4 linked regions of the Homo sapiens genome follow. The protein of the gene in region 4 purifies or fractionates together with the protein of the main gene of each other region. This does not show direct contact. Each region holds a gene or a part of one and is shown on either strand. Other genes may lie near its edges.

The links. Proteins that work in one complex are often made in the same cells at the same time.
Region 1: the proteins of DAB2 (region 4) and REPS1 purify together in Homo sapiens (affinity purification with mass spectrometry; one large-scale study listed by BioGRID and IntAct). This does not show direct contact.
Region 2: the proteins of DAB2 (region 4) and CPSF6 purify together in Homo sapiens (affinity purification with mass spectrometry, with the first as the bait; one study listed by BioGRID). This does not show direct contact.
Region 3: the proteins of DAB2 (region 4) and PIP purify together in Homo sapiens (co-immunoprecipitation; one large-scale study listed by IntAct). This does not show direct contact.

Annotation. Positions count from the first base shown.
Region 1 is NC_000006.12:138,902,993-138,905,635, reverse strand, and holds the end of REPS1 (ralBP1-associated Eps domain-containing protein 1), read left to right. Parts: intron 1-503; coding exon 504-572; coding exon of another isoform or gene 573-609; 3' UTR 610-2,143; downstream 2,144-2,643. UniProt on the Homo sapiens protein: May coordinate the cellular actions of activated EGF receptors and Ral-GTPases.
Region 2 is NC_000012.12:69,249,557-69,253,068, reverse strand, and holds part of CPSF6 (cleavage and polyadenylation specificity factor subunit 6), read right to left. Parts: intron 1,941-3,512; coding exon 1,731-1,940; intron 19-1,730; coding exon 1-18. UniProt on the Homo sapiens protein: Component of the cleavage factor Im (CFIm) complex that functions as an activator of the pre-mRNA 3'-end cleavage and polyadenylation processing required for the maturation of pre-mRNA into functional mRNAs.
Region 3 is NC_000007.14:143,137,646-143,140,239, reverse strand, and holds the end of PIP (prolactin-inducible protein precursor), read right to left. Parts: intron 1,166-2,594; coding exon 1,051-1,165; intron 723-1,050; coding exon 598-722; 3' UTR 501-597; downstream 1-500.
Region 4 is NC_000005.10:39,378,986-39,384,392, forward strand, and holds part of DAB2 (disabled homolog 2), read right to left. Parts: intron 4,287-5,407; coding exon 3,633-4,286; intron 2,632-3,632; coding exon 2,469-2,631; intron 1-2,468. UniProt on the Homo sapiens protein: Adapter protein that functions as a clathrin-associated sorting protein (CLASP) required for clathrin-mediated endocytosis of selected cargo proteins.

The DNA of each region.
Region 1 (2,643 bases), on a different chromosome or scaffold from region 4:
CTAGGATCTTATTTTAATATTAAACATATAAAGAGACTACATTTCAGCCGGGCGCGGTGGCTCACGCCTGTAATCCCAGCACTTTGGGAGGCCGAGGCGGGTGGATCATGAGGTCAGGAGATCGAGACCATCCTGGCTAACAAGGTGAAACCCCGTCTCTACTAAAAATACAAAAAATTAGCCGGGCGCGGTGGCGGGCGCCTGTAGTCCCAGCTACTCGGGAGGCTGAGGCAGGAGAATGGCGTGAACCCGGGAAGCGGAGCTTGCAGTGAGCCGAGATTGCGCCATTGCAGTCCGCAGTCCGGCCTGGGCGACAGAGCGAGACTCCGTCTCAAAAAAAAGAAACTACATTTCTAAAGTGAAGTATACTTTTAAAATATGAATAAGCTCTCCCTTAGTTGTCTTGACAAATTTAAATTGTTTTCTTGAAGCAGAGCTGTTGTTAGATATTTCTTCATTTTTATATACTTTGAAACATAACTTGGCCTTTGCATCTTTTTCAGGATGTTCTTGAGGAGAGAATTTCCCTGGAAGTTCAACTGGAACAACTTCGACCATTCTCTCACCTATAAGCCAATTGCCGTTAACTGTGAACATACTTGTTTTTAAGTGGTTTTGGGTTCAAAGCCAATTTGGAGACCTAGACATTCAGCTCACTGCTTAACTCAACATTAAATTTTATGATTCTGTTTTGCCCTATATGTTCACCGTTGTATTTAAGTATCTTTTATTTTTTAATTTCGACAATAAAAAGGTCAGGATGGCGTTTTCTGGAGGGTAGATTGTGTTTGTTGGCACACCCACCTTTTCTGTTCCCTAGCATCTGGGATATGCAATGCTTCTATGGCTAATACCACACACCAATTTAATTTATAGAATGGGCTCCTCATTTACATCTCAGTCACAGACTCAGAAATAAATTGTCAGTTTGTCCTTTTATGTTTAATATTTTACATAAAGCATCTATTCTATAAAAATCTTTAGAAAGAGTTTCCCATTTAATTTTGATTTTAAAGAATTATATTGGATAAGGTGGTTTTCACCATAAGCTAATTTACTCTCTGCAGCCGTCTACATTCTTCACAAATCATGTGGTACATTGAAGCCTCTTTTACATGTCAACTTGTGACAAATACAAACATGTGAGATTTTATATTTTCCTTGTGGAAATGTGATCAACTTCATCAGCGACTTCGAACTATTTTATGAGATTCAATAATTCAGCAGTCATGTAAACTTATGAAATAGGTATGAGTAATGGCCTTTCTTAATTTTTTTAAGTATTGTTTTAAAACTTCTGAGGATATCAGTTATTCCCAGAATAAAGGGAAATTCCTTAGGATTTCTAGTTTACCTTTAGCCATCTTGTCACTCATTCTTTTGCTATACAGACAAGTTTTTCCTATTAATGAGTTTCTGGAGTATGCCTTATTCAGGACAATATGCTGTTTTAGATTTTGTTTAATATTAAATGATATATACATTTCGATCCATTGCTAACAGCAGATATTCCCTTTAAGATTTATTCTGTCTATAGGATCATAGATTTTAAACTGCATGGATATATCTTGGCAGAATCAGAAGTGTGGTTTTACACCAATAAAACAGCATAATATTTTAACTTTTGTTCATCTTTTTAACAAGATTTAAAGTTTTAAGAAATAGAAGATTTTGTATTTTCATTTCTGAAAGAAAAAATGTTTAAATACTATAGATTCACAGTCCTAAACTGCACCGATAGACTTTGTTACTGTAAACAAGAATTTGAAGAACAAGGGAAACTGACAACCTCAAGCTTCCAAGATTAATACAATTTTTACCTGACAATATCTAGGTAAAAATATACATCAGCTGAAGTTTCCAAGTGGCTTTCAGTATGGCTTTAGTTGTTAAATAATAAATTTAAAGCATTAAAGGCCCAGGAAACTACTCAACACCTGTTTTTCTGAGTGTCTTTGTTTTCAAAGAAACATTTTTACTCAGCTGTATTTCATTACAAGCAAGTTTTGCTGTTTCCATTTAGTTTTGTTTTTTAAAATATGCTTTTTAAAAATAGCCTTCTAATTTAACAATGTCAAAAATATTTGTTAAAGCTTCTTAGAATTTAGCCTTCCAATAAATAACACTTAAAAATTATAGAAAACTTTTTAGTACTTTGTAGTGGTATATCTTTAATGCTCTCTAGAGGAGTACATTCATACTAAGGATAAGTGTGACAAGTTTTTGAGTAAATTGCCATTTGTATTTCTTGTCCTTTTTTTTTTCTTTTTTTTTTGAGACAGAGGTTCGCTCTTGTCACCCAGGCTGAAGTGCAATGGAGCCATCTCAGCTTACTACAACCTCCGACTCCCGGGTACAAGTGATTCTTCTCCTGCCTCAGCGTCGCAAGTAGCAGGGACTACAGGCGTGTGCCACCATGCCTGGCTAATTTTGTATTTTTAGTAGAGACGGGGTTTCTCCATGTTGGTGAGGCTGGTCTCAAACTCCTGACCTCAGGTAATCTGCCACCTCAGCCTCCCAAAGTGCTGGGATTACAGGCGTGAGTCATCATGCCCAGCCCTCTTATCCATATTTTAAATCAATAATTGTTTCATGAAAATGTTAAAAATGGTAAATCACCAACAAATTAAAATATCTTTCTAG
Region 2 (3,512 bases), on a different chromosome or scaffold from region 4:
GTCTTCATCTGTTGTCCACTGCAAGATATTTTCCCCCTCATTAACCATTAAAATAAAACCAAGATTTTTATTATCCCAGTCTAGTTTTTAAGGGGAAATTTGAGACATAAAAGAGAAAATAAATGCTGAGTGCAAATCTAAGTCTAGTTATGGCCAGTCAGACTCCAATTTTTAAACAGCACAAAAACCATCTGGGAACCTAACTTCATTCCCTGATAAGTATTTCAGAAACTAGAAGGTATATACCCTTGGGGTTACAATAAGATTTGACTCTCAAGAGTTTCTGGTCCCTTACAGCTTTAAACTGCTATGATTTTAAATTGTGAATAAAACCAATTTCACTTCCTCCCATTAAAGGAAAGTATTTTGAATTTCATCTTGTTTTTGAATTAAAATGCAGATAAGAAAAAACTAACATGTATTTAATATCTACCATATACTTTATGTATCAACTAACTCTTATAACAACCATATAAGCACTATTATTATACCCATTTTACACATGATACAATAGAAGTTAAAGAGCTTTAACTCTTTAACAAGGTCACAAAACTAATAATAGATGGTGGAGCTAAGATCCAAATACTTACTTAGCAACCATACTTTCATAACTACACTGCTACTGTCTCCAATTTTATAGAATACTCAGACTGGGTGGTGGGAGATCTGTTACATTTAGTTTTAAAAGAAATGTAAATAGGCTGGGCACCATAATCCTAGCACTTTGAGAGCTTGGTTAGGAGGATCACTTGAGGCCAGGAATTTGAGGCCAGCCTGAAGCAATATAGCAAGAAGTCAGCTCTACAAAAGTGTTTGTTTTGTTTTTAATTAGCCAGGCAGAGTGACACATGCCTGTGGTCCTAGCTACTTGGAGGCTGACACAGGAGAATCACTTCAGCCCAGGAGTTTGAGGCTTCAGTGAGCTATGATTACACCACTGCACTCCAGCCTGGGTGACAGAGTTTTGCAAATTCTGTCTCCCCCTGAAAAAAAGAAATGTAAATAAAACGTTTAAAAATACAGTGTTATTAAGGAAATGCAAGGGTGCCAAGTTTTATTGATTTTTGCATATACAAGTTTTTAACTTTCAAGTATACATATAACTAAGTAGAAATACAAACATTCTATAGGACTATTTTAATGATACTTAAGATGTAATATTAATAAAAAATAAATATACATATGTGCATTTAATGAAGCTCTAAATCAATAATCTTAGTCTCATGACAACCCAAATTAAAATATAATACGCACAGAAGTGCTTCTATAAATCAGATTTCAAATTTAAGGGCAGAAATAAAACTCAAATTTGTAACACAAATTAAATAATGGACACTATTTTTAAACCAGGAGTGATACTATGTCTCTTTCCTTTTACACTTGAATCCTGGTTTGAGACCCCATGTGAGCATTATTTTTAGTGAAACTGGGCTATCGGAAGCAAGGTAAAGTGGTAGCATAAAAAAGGTAACTGAAGACAAAACTAATTTAACTATATTTAACTAGTATCTCCACCAAGAAAAGTTGAATGACCACAAAACTCAAAACTAGAAGAATTCGAATTAACGATGTTGCAAAGATATTTGTATTTCCCTCCTCATTGGACAAGCAAACACATATAGAAAAACACAGTAACTTCAAACTTATAAAAATCTGGAGAAAAACATTAATTACTAGAGCAGTTCAAAATCAATTACCAATAATTTAATTCTTATATTAACTTCACTTACCCATGTTAGATTTCCAATATATAATGCAATTCTCTTTCCAGTATATGTATAGACAACATTTGGTGCTGCTCCTTTACCCACATCATCACCAACAGTTGGTGGGAGAGTATCCATGTAATCTCGGTCTTCTGGGGCATCTCCATTATTTGCAGATGGAGATATGACATCGTCATACAAATCTATCTGATCATGCCCACCATATTCAGCTTCCTGAGATACAGAAATAATGCTCTAGATTATACAAAAGTCAAAATACTACTAAAATAGACTTGAATACAAATTCAACTTTTTGTTTTAAAAATCTGATGGAAAAAGGCCAAGGATTTCAGTACAAATCTTTTTCCACTTTATGCAATAGATGTATTCTTGAACAGGTCTAAAAAGTGAATTTCTTGCCGGGAGTGGTGGCTCACACCTGTAATCCCAGCACTTGGGAGGCCGAGGCAGGTGGATCACTTGAGGTCAGGAGTTCGAGACCAGCCTAGCCAACATGATGAAGCCCTGTCTCTACTAAACATACAAAAATTAGCCAGGCATGGTGGCACACGCCTGTAATCCCAGTTACTCAGGAGGCTGAGGCAGGAGAATCGCTTGAACCTGGGAGGCGGAGGTTGTAGTGAGCCAAGATCGTGCCATTGCACTCCAGCCTGGGCGACAGAGCAAGACTTCATCTCAAAAAAAAACAAAAAAACAAAAAAAGGGGGTTTCCTTTATTTCTTTTCTTTTTTTTCTTTTTTTTTTTTTTTTTGTAGAGACCAGGTCTCGCTACATTGCCCACGCTAGTTTCGAACTCCTGAGTTCAAGCAATCCTCCTGCCTCGGCCTCCCAAATATAGGCTTGAGCCACTGCACCCAGCCTAAAGTTAATTTCTATATAACGAAACCTACTTTTCCACTGATATTTATTATAATATAAAAAATAAGTTCTTTTGGAAAAAGACATGGAAACAAAATAAGTAACATGAAACTTTCCTTGGAAATACTCTTAACTAGAAGTAATAACACACAAATGCAAATAGACAAGTTTTTTTTAAACTGACAGTAGAAAAATCACCCCAAAATCCAAAGCCATTATATCTTTAATATGACCACAGAAAAATAGTTATTATTTTCTATAGTATTCAGATCTTGTTTTCCAACCTTGAGGAAGCTACCAGTATTAAAAAAAAGCATAGTGAGCTGAGCCATAAAAGAAAGAAGAAATATGGGTATGTAAATAATTCAAAATGTCGTAATAAATGAACAAGGTAAAGAGAAATAAACGAAATACATGTAGAACAATCCAAATTAATTATCTTGCAAGTTGTATTATTCTCAGTGAACAAAGAGCTAATGCTTACCTGAATTCTTAGTTATCTAGTCAAGCAAATTAGCAAGAGAAAAGCAACAGACAACAAAAAGAGTATAGTAAAGCTTTGGCACTGTCACCAGCAGAATTAAAGCAATGCTACTGGGTGTCACTTACATGCCTAAATGATAATCAGGGAAAAGGAAAACTAAAATGAAACAGAAACAGGAGCAGGAAAAAAATAGAAGAGGGTTCAATTTGTAACTAAGTACATGAAAAATGAAATGTAGGTAAAAGCAGAACACTCAACACTATTTAATTGCCTTTGATAACCATTAAATAGACCATAAGCTTGACTAAGCCTGTAGCACAGGAAAATCTCCATTTTTATCTTCTACTCTCCCTTTCCACAACTAAGTACTTGTATTGGTGTGAACCATTTTATTCTTATGACATAGAACATCTGACATAAGGAAAAAGACAATTATAAGACAA
Region 3 (2,594 bases), on a different chromosome or scaffold from region 4:
AGCCCCTCAGGGCTCCCTCTGCCCCTTTACTCCTCTATTATGCCTGAGCTCCTCAGGCAGAGCTGCACAGGACCCTGATATCCCTGAGTGTCACAATCCATTGAAAACAAGCAACAGAATAGCATAGAATGCTACTGCTCATTTAGGGGGCCATGGACTCCATCCCTGACTCTGCTGCATGCAACAGGACTCCTGTCTTCTGGGATCTGAGCTGTTGCTGGAGGGCAGTGGGATGGAGAGAGGTCAAGCAACAGGGAGGCTTGGTGCCTGCCCTGGCTCTGCCACTCCTGTGCCGTGAACTTTAGGGCCACTGCTTTTCCTCTCTGTGAGCATAGCTCCTCTTCCCAGTTTCTTCTTCTCTCCCTCTTCATACCAATGGGCAGTGAGAACCCGTACAATCTCCTCAGTAAAGGTTCTTTGAAAGACAAATGTTCTAGAAATTTCAGGTAATCTGGGGTTCTTCAGGAGCAGATTTTGGAGATACAACAGAACATGGAGAAGCATGTTAAGAAGTTTATTTTATAGACCACAGCAGAAATTCCAGCCAAGTTTCTTTAGAGGAAATCACCTGGGTGTGGCAAACAGACAGGGCTTCCATTATTCTACCTTTAGGATTTCAATAGTATAAAACCGGTTGTTTTTGATGGGGATTACAGCAGCATCATCAGGGCAGATGCCTAATTCCCGAATAACATCAACGACGGCTGCAATTTGCACAGTTCCTGAAAAAGACAGGGACGGAGATCATCTCTCAGACACCCCGGCCATGTCCTGTCTTTTCTACTCATATCAGGCATCTGCCCCCTGGGGTTCAGTTTCCCCAAATCCTTTGCAAATTTGTCTCCTGTATCAACTTTTTGCACTCAATGCCTCTGTCTTAGAACCTGGGTGCTTTCCCCATCTGCTCTCCCCATGCTCTTCCCTCCCTCCCTTCTGTCCTTCTGCCCTGAGGTCCTGGTCCTGCTCGGTTCGCAGCCATGTTTCTGTTTATAGTTTCTCCTCCCTGGTGGCTGGTGGGTAGTTCCCTCCTTGGACAACTTCTGTACTTACTGTTGGTGTAAAAGTCCCAGTAGAAGGTTTTTGGATTGTCGTCACATAGGCAGGCAGTATACTTATAGTTAAATGCACCTTGTAGAGGGATGCTGCTAATGAGGTAAGTTTTAACCTGGTGAGGAGAAGGTGGGAGGGGGAATTCATTGTTATTTTGGGGAATGGGTAAGGGAGGGAAAAATAGGAGAGGGAAAAGCCGGAGGAGAAGAGTGGGGGTGGAGGTGGGCCTAGGGCAAGGGGGAGTCTACTGTTGTAGTATCATTTCAGGAGCCAAAGTCTAGGTCAGAAGGTTTTCCCTTCCAATGCCCTCAAACTCCTGCCTTAGCAGTGTGGAGAAGCTCAGGAGGAGATAGGGATGCAAGTGAATCCACAGGGCAAGGAGAGCTCATCCAGGGCAGCTGTCCAGCTGAGGAGCAGGCTTGCCTTAGTCACCAGCCAGAGGTTTCAGGAATCGACCTGCAATCACGTTTACTCTGAGACCTGGTGAGACAGCAGCCTGGCCACTTGCGTGTAGGAGCCAATGTCAGGCCTTGTTGTCAGAGCTGTGACCAAGCCCCATCTGTGCTCCTCTCTGACTTGGTGACCTTTGGTGATGAGAGGCCTCTCACTCTCACTTTCCTCAGGTATGAGGTGGAAACAATTAACTACCAAACCTGGCTGTTAGATAAGCAAATAACATCTTGAATGTAAATTTCTTTTTAACTTGAGTGCTTTGCAATTCAAGATCCCAGATTATTGTATATATAAATTTCAGTGGAGTCAGAGGATTTTGTCCAGTTAACGTTTAACACAGCAGTTTTATCCTGGGGTCCATAGACCCAGAGGGATCTGTGGATAGCATTCAGTGAGTCTGTGGACTCAGGCAGGGGAAAAATATGCATCTTTATTACTAACCTCTAATTGAAATTCAGCATTCCTTCTGTTATGAATGTCATCAAGGAACCACAGTGCCATTAGCAGTATGTGTGATTTTATCACAAGGAGAAAAGTAGATATGTACATATCATTGCACGGATCCAGAGGTCCGAAATACAGCCTGAATGTACTACCTTGAATGTATGGCAGTTATCAGACTGGCTCATGGTCACGACTGAGGCCCAGTGCCATTCTGCCCACCTCCTGCAGCTTGCTCAGCTACCTGGCAACTCAGCATCAAGTAGCCGTTCAGACCTAAACAGTAAATTCAGGTGTTCTCACCCTTGGAGTTTTACTCAGAATGCCTTGGAGAATCCTGGCGTTTCTTTGGAGAAGACTACCTGTGCCTTGTTTCCCTTTTTTTTTTTTTTCTAAGAGACAGAGTCTCACTCTGTTGCCCAGGCTGGAGTGCAATGGTGCGAACGTGGCTCACTGCAACCTCCGCCTCCCAGGTTCAAGTGATTCTTCTGCCTCAGCCTCCTGAGTAGCTGGGATTACAGGTGCGTGCTACCAGCCCTGGCTAATTTTTGTATTTTTAGTAGAGACAGGGTTTCACCATGTTGGCCAAGCTGGTCTCGAACTCCTGACCTCAGGTGATCTGCCCACTTTGGCCTCCCAAAGTGCTGGGA
Region 4 (5,407 bases):
TGTATTTTAAAACACATTCAATTAAATTGTATTAACAGAAGCCAGATCACTTGCTAATAATTTCCACCAGTTAGCTGTGCAAAAAGGAGGGTAGAATTTTATCATCTTTCATGTTGGACAACTTGTCTTCATTTAGGAAAATATCATATTAGTGAGAATGGTATTTGTAAAAGAGAAAAATATTAGGGCTGGGCGCAGTGGCTTACACCTGTAATCCCAGCACTTTGGGAAGCCAAAGTGGGAGGACCACTTGAGGCCAGGAGTTCAGAACCAACCTGGCCAACGTGGCGAAACCCTGTCTCTACTAACATACAAAAATTAGCTGGGTGTGGTGGCGCATGCCTGTAATCCCAGCTACTAGAGAGGCTGAGGCACTTAAACTTGGGAGGCAGAGGTTGCAGTGAGCTGAGACAGCACCACTGCACTCCAGCCTGGGTGACAGAGTGAGACTCTGTCTCAAAAAAAAAAAAAAAAAAAAAGGAGAGAAAAATATTACATTTGCCAGGAATTCAAGGCTTTCCCAGTATATACTTATACCAGTCTTCATTCCTACCCACCAAATCCCCACATTGTGTTTTAACACATTGAACACATTGAACACATTGACAAAGTAGGGGCAAGGAATAAGGAAAAAGGGGACATGGGTATAGAACATTAATTTTATTACCTTCTGAGGCTAGATTAAAATACAAGCAAGTTGAATCTGAGGGCTCAGCTTTCTACAATACCCTCTCCCCACCCCCCCAGTTCTCCAGGGGAGACAGTCCCCCAGCTGGGTCTAGCGGAAGCCAGACCTACAACCTTCCATGGTTTGGCTGAGGATCCCTGCTAGTGGACAGGGACTATACTGTAGAGCTCAGTTTGAGTCCCATGTCCAAACTTGGAACAATCATCAGTATTCTGCAGTTGTATACCCCAAGCCCTCAACAGGGGCACCTAGCCAAAAAGCTTCACTTCGTCTGAATAAATAAACAGTTATAGGGTCCAGCTGTATTTTCAGGCTGACTTGTTAAATATTGGCTGCAAAAATTCTTAAGGGCATTGATATCAGATAAAAAGCTCTGTGATGTGATCTCGCTGCAGACATTGCATTGCAAGCACTCTGGTCTTCTGTGAGGGAAGGGTACCAACCAGCTCCACTTGGGGGTGCAAGGAAAAGAGCAACGCAGAAAGGGGGAAGCCCCCAAGAGACATGAAGTCTTTAGAGAGAGCCTCTTGATGGGGTAAATGCGAGCAGAGACCTGGGACAAGCTGGCTTTTCATACCCTCACGGATTTCTGCCACTCAGCAGTTGAGTAACAGTCCTCCTCTGGCCACCCTATTCTAGATATGATTAAACAGATTTCTTGTAAAAGAACCAAACTATTTTCCTTTGTAGGAAAACAACAGAGACAGAGAGGAAAACAAAACAAGGATCCTGATGACTGACTGCAGGAGGCAGAGAAAGCCAGGATCCCTGGTCAGATTTTACCGAAGGAGAGGAGAGTCCTTCCTCGTCTACAGTCCTCCACCTCCCAAGCCAGAGTCCATTTGGAGTTTGTAGAGGTGCCAAGAGAAGAAAAATAGAGTCCATAGCAGGACAGCAAAAACTATTGTCAGGGTTTCTGAAAACTGTACCATGGAGTCTGAAAAGAACTATAGGCTATGGACTAAGAATAGCAAGGCCAGCCCTCAGTCAAGTGGACTTTCCCACTGTCCTACCACAGAGTGATCAGCGGCTCACACAAGCTAATGACACATTTAGGAATTAAGAGCGTCAATGCATACTAGCTGTCTGATAAAATTCCATCTCTTCCCTTATTTCTCTCTTTTTTCAACTTTGGCTTTCTAGGACTTATGTTCTAGCTTCAGTAAAACACTCAAGCTAGCCAAAATATTGGCAAGGAGCTCCTATGGCAGAAGTGCTCAGAGACTGATCAGGATGTGTGCCTGATCTACCCTTACCATACACCTAGGAACACAGCTGGGCCCAGAACCTAGGACTTTCACTCTATGACTTATTCTTGCTTCAGACTTAACTTACATCCTTCTTGGGCATATATTCCTTCTAAGAGGGCTATGTGTTGAAAGGACATAGGCCTTCGATCTATTATGGCAAAAGACATGGAAGACATGCATGTTGACAGACAAGCCTCTCTTATGTCAACCCTGTTTTGCTACTGAAGCTGGTCTGAGTTTAGAATCCCTTACAATTGTCTTTCAGGAAACCATGACCAGTTGGTTCAAGTAAGTACAATACTGAAAATGAATTTCTTGTCTCATGCTGCCTCGAGGAGCCAAATGTGAGTTACAAGTCAAGAATATCAAATGGATGTGGGGTTGTATAGTAGAAGTGGGAGAAGGGCTCCCTGGGATGCTCAAATCTTATGCTGTAAAACCCTCTGGGAGTATGAAATCTCTTCCGATGCATCATCATTTTATGAGCAAAAGCAAAAGAGTCATACTTAATTTTATCTCTAGGCACCTACCTAGACCCACCAGGGGCCCCACTGGGGCAGGAGCACTTGTTTTGAAGAGATCCAGAGGGTTGGGCTGCAGGGCTGTAGGTTGTCCTGTGGGTGACGCCTGGCCTGAAGGTTCTGAGACGGGAGGAGCAAAGATGTCTGATGCAAGCAAGTCATTGGCTGAAGACTGACAGGACAGGGAGGGAGGGAGAAGCCTTAGTTACTCACTAACAGTGAAATACAGCCTCATTTTGTCTCCTACCCTATACCCCAATTTGAGAGCCACAAAAAGGAAAACTTTTTTCTTGACAGATGAACAACAACAACTACTACTACAGAAAAAGAGTCCTCCAAAAAAAGACACAGATTCCTACAACGGACGGACTACTGAGTCTTAGTGTCTGACACTACCTAGGACTTGCAAAGTGAAATCTACTATATTCCTTTACACACTCACATTGGTCTGGTCTCATCGCTAAATGCTTGAAGTTGGGGGAGCAAGTGTGTAAAAGGGGCAACTACCAATAAGCATCCTAAATATTTTTGTTCATTCCATTGGATTTTAAGTCAGTCTACATAGAGATCATAGGGTCTTAATCCAGGCAAGCCTGTATATTCTTAGGAGAGGTAAAAAAAGACACCTATGGGAACTGCATTTTAAATTGCTCTTAAATAAAGCTGAGATCATAGTGGTAATAGTAAATACATAAGCTTAGAAAAAGCTTATGTATTTACTCAGTATTTAAAAGAGGAGATAAGCTCGAGAATTTTATACCACCACCATGGACACTGATGCAACATGATGGGTGTGCAGGGCATGTGTTAGTGTCAGGGAAGTACAAAGGGAATCACAAGAACTCTCACCCTCCCAACCCAGAACACGATGATCAAACTTACCAGAGGTATAGAAGCATAGCAGCATTAAAAATGGAAAAACTTGTGTTTAGTTTAATCATAAGTGACAAGACATGCACACGGAAAGCAGGGTGTGAAAAACACTGCTGAGAAGCTTAAAAACGGTGGCAGTTAGAGGAAAGTACTCCTGGAGAACCAAAGTGCCTTATCCCACCTTCTATTTCACAGCAACACAGGAAACTACGAGAGCAGCAGGAAAGAGAGCTTGCATCACACCACCCTTTGGTACCGAACATGCACTCTGCTAATGGATATGTGGAGAAGACAATTCACCTTAGCAGTCCTTCTGCCTCTTCCTGGTTTGGTACTTTGTGGAGGTGGGATAATGGCTATGGAGTCATGTGGTGAGGACTGGACAGAGCTTTCCAAGTCCTGCTTTACGCCATTCTGTATGGACAGTCCTTTGGGAGGGCTTCCCACAAAAGGGTTCGGGGAGGATTTGACAGAGAAGCCGTTCTGTTCTCTTTCAGATACCCCATTTTGAGTTCTCACTGCTGGCTGGGTTTGCGAACTTGAAAAGGGCCATGGGCCTGCCTGAGCTTCCTGTTTGCCAGTCCGGTTAGAGATCTGGTCAAATTGCTGACCAAAGTAGTCAACATCACCATTCAGGGGCCCATTACTCAGCGGAGTAGACGAGCTACTCGAATTCTCTTTCTTCTGATCTGGAGATTTGAGAGAATCAAACGAAGAAGGTGTCGATTGGTCTGGCTGTGTGAAAGGATCGTCACGGAAAGGATCAGGATTAGGGGTGGGAAAGAAGTTGAGATTGGCAGAAAAGGCATTTTCAGGCAAGAAGGATGCCTGAGGCGTTGGTCGAGGAAGAGAACAGGAGGTGATGCCGTTTGTTAAGAATGGATTTTCTCTTAAAGAATTCTGATTGGTGTCGATTTCAGAGTTTAGATCCACTAACAGGATATCTTTGCTTTCCTATCACATTTGGAAAGAAAAAAAAAGAAAGTGTTAGTCCATGTTGTGACTTCAAATGAGAAAATTACATAAGATGACTAGGATTATCAGAATTTCCATTTGAATTTGGTCTTGATAAATCGGTTGATCATTACCTCCTTCCATCAACCCCCGTAGTCCATTACTCCCTAGCTATAGACTAGGTCCTTTCTATTCCTCCCCAATATCATGCCCTTTTATTTAAGTCTCAACCTCATTAGGTGAAATCTTACTGTTGCTTACTTCATGTCTCTGCTCACCCTGGTTCACACATACAGACTGGCTTAATTCATTATGAGCATTGTTTCAATTTGTGACTTTGAAAGTCTTAAAGGGAATTGATTGTGAGTCACTATAAATGATTATCAAAGTATGTTGAGCTTGAAAGTAAGTGATTTCAGAAGCTTAGCTCAGCTTCCTACCTATACACATACAGTCCTCTCTATTGTACCCCCAGAGTCATGTAGGATCATCTCTCTAAATGAGAAAATTCATCGACTAATACATTCATATTTTATAGTTCTGGCTGTGATGAAATTTAAGATCAAATGCATTTCCCTAAAATCGGTCCAGTTCTTTCCTCTAGAGGTGGGAGAGAGGCTTTTCTTTTATATCACGGCCTTCAGGTATGTCTCTTAATATTTAAGGCTCTTGCTGAAGCTGATAGTCAAGTAGGATCTCATCCTCATCATCCCAGTCTCTCCTCTGGGCTTACCCTTTTTGTCTATGTCCTCTGAAAGAGACACTCAATACTGATCTAATTTAGTCAATCACACATTAAGATCTCCTATTTGTACATCTTTTCATAACATTGCTTAGAGTTGCCTGTGTTGTGACAGTAATCTCATCTATTTAGTGGTTAAAGTCAACCAACAACTGATCTTTAATTTATATACAGTAGTCCCTCCTTATCCTCAGGGAATATGTTCCAAGGCCCACAGTGGATGTCTGAAATGGCACATAGTGCCAAAACCTATATACAGTATTTTTCTCATATACATACACATGATAAAGTTTAATTTATCAATTAGGCACAATAAGAGATTAACAAGTAATAAAATAGAATGATTATAACAATATGCTGTAATAAAAGTTATTTGAAT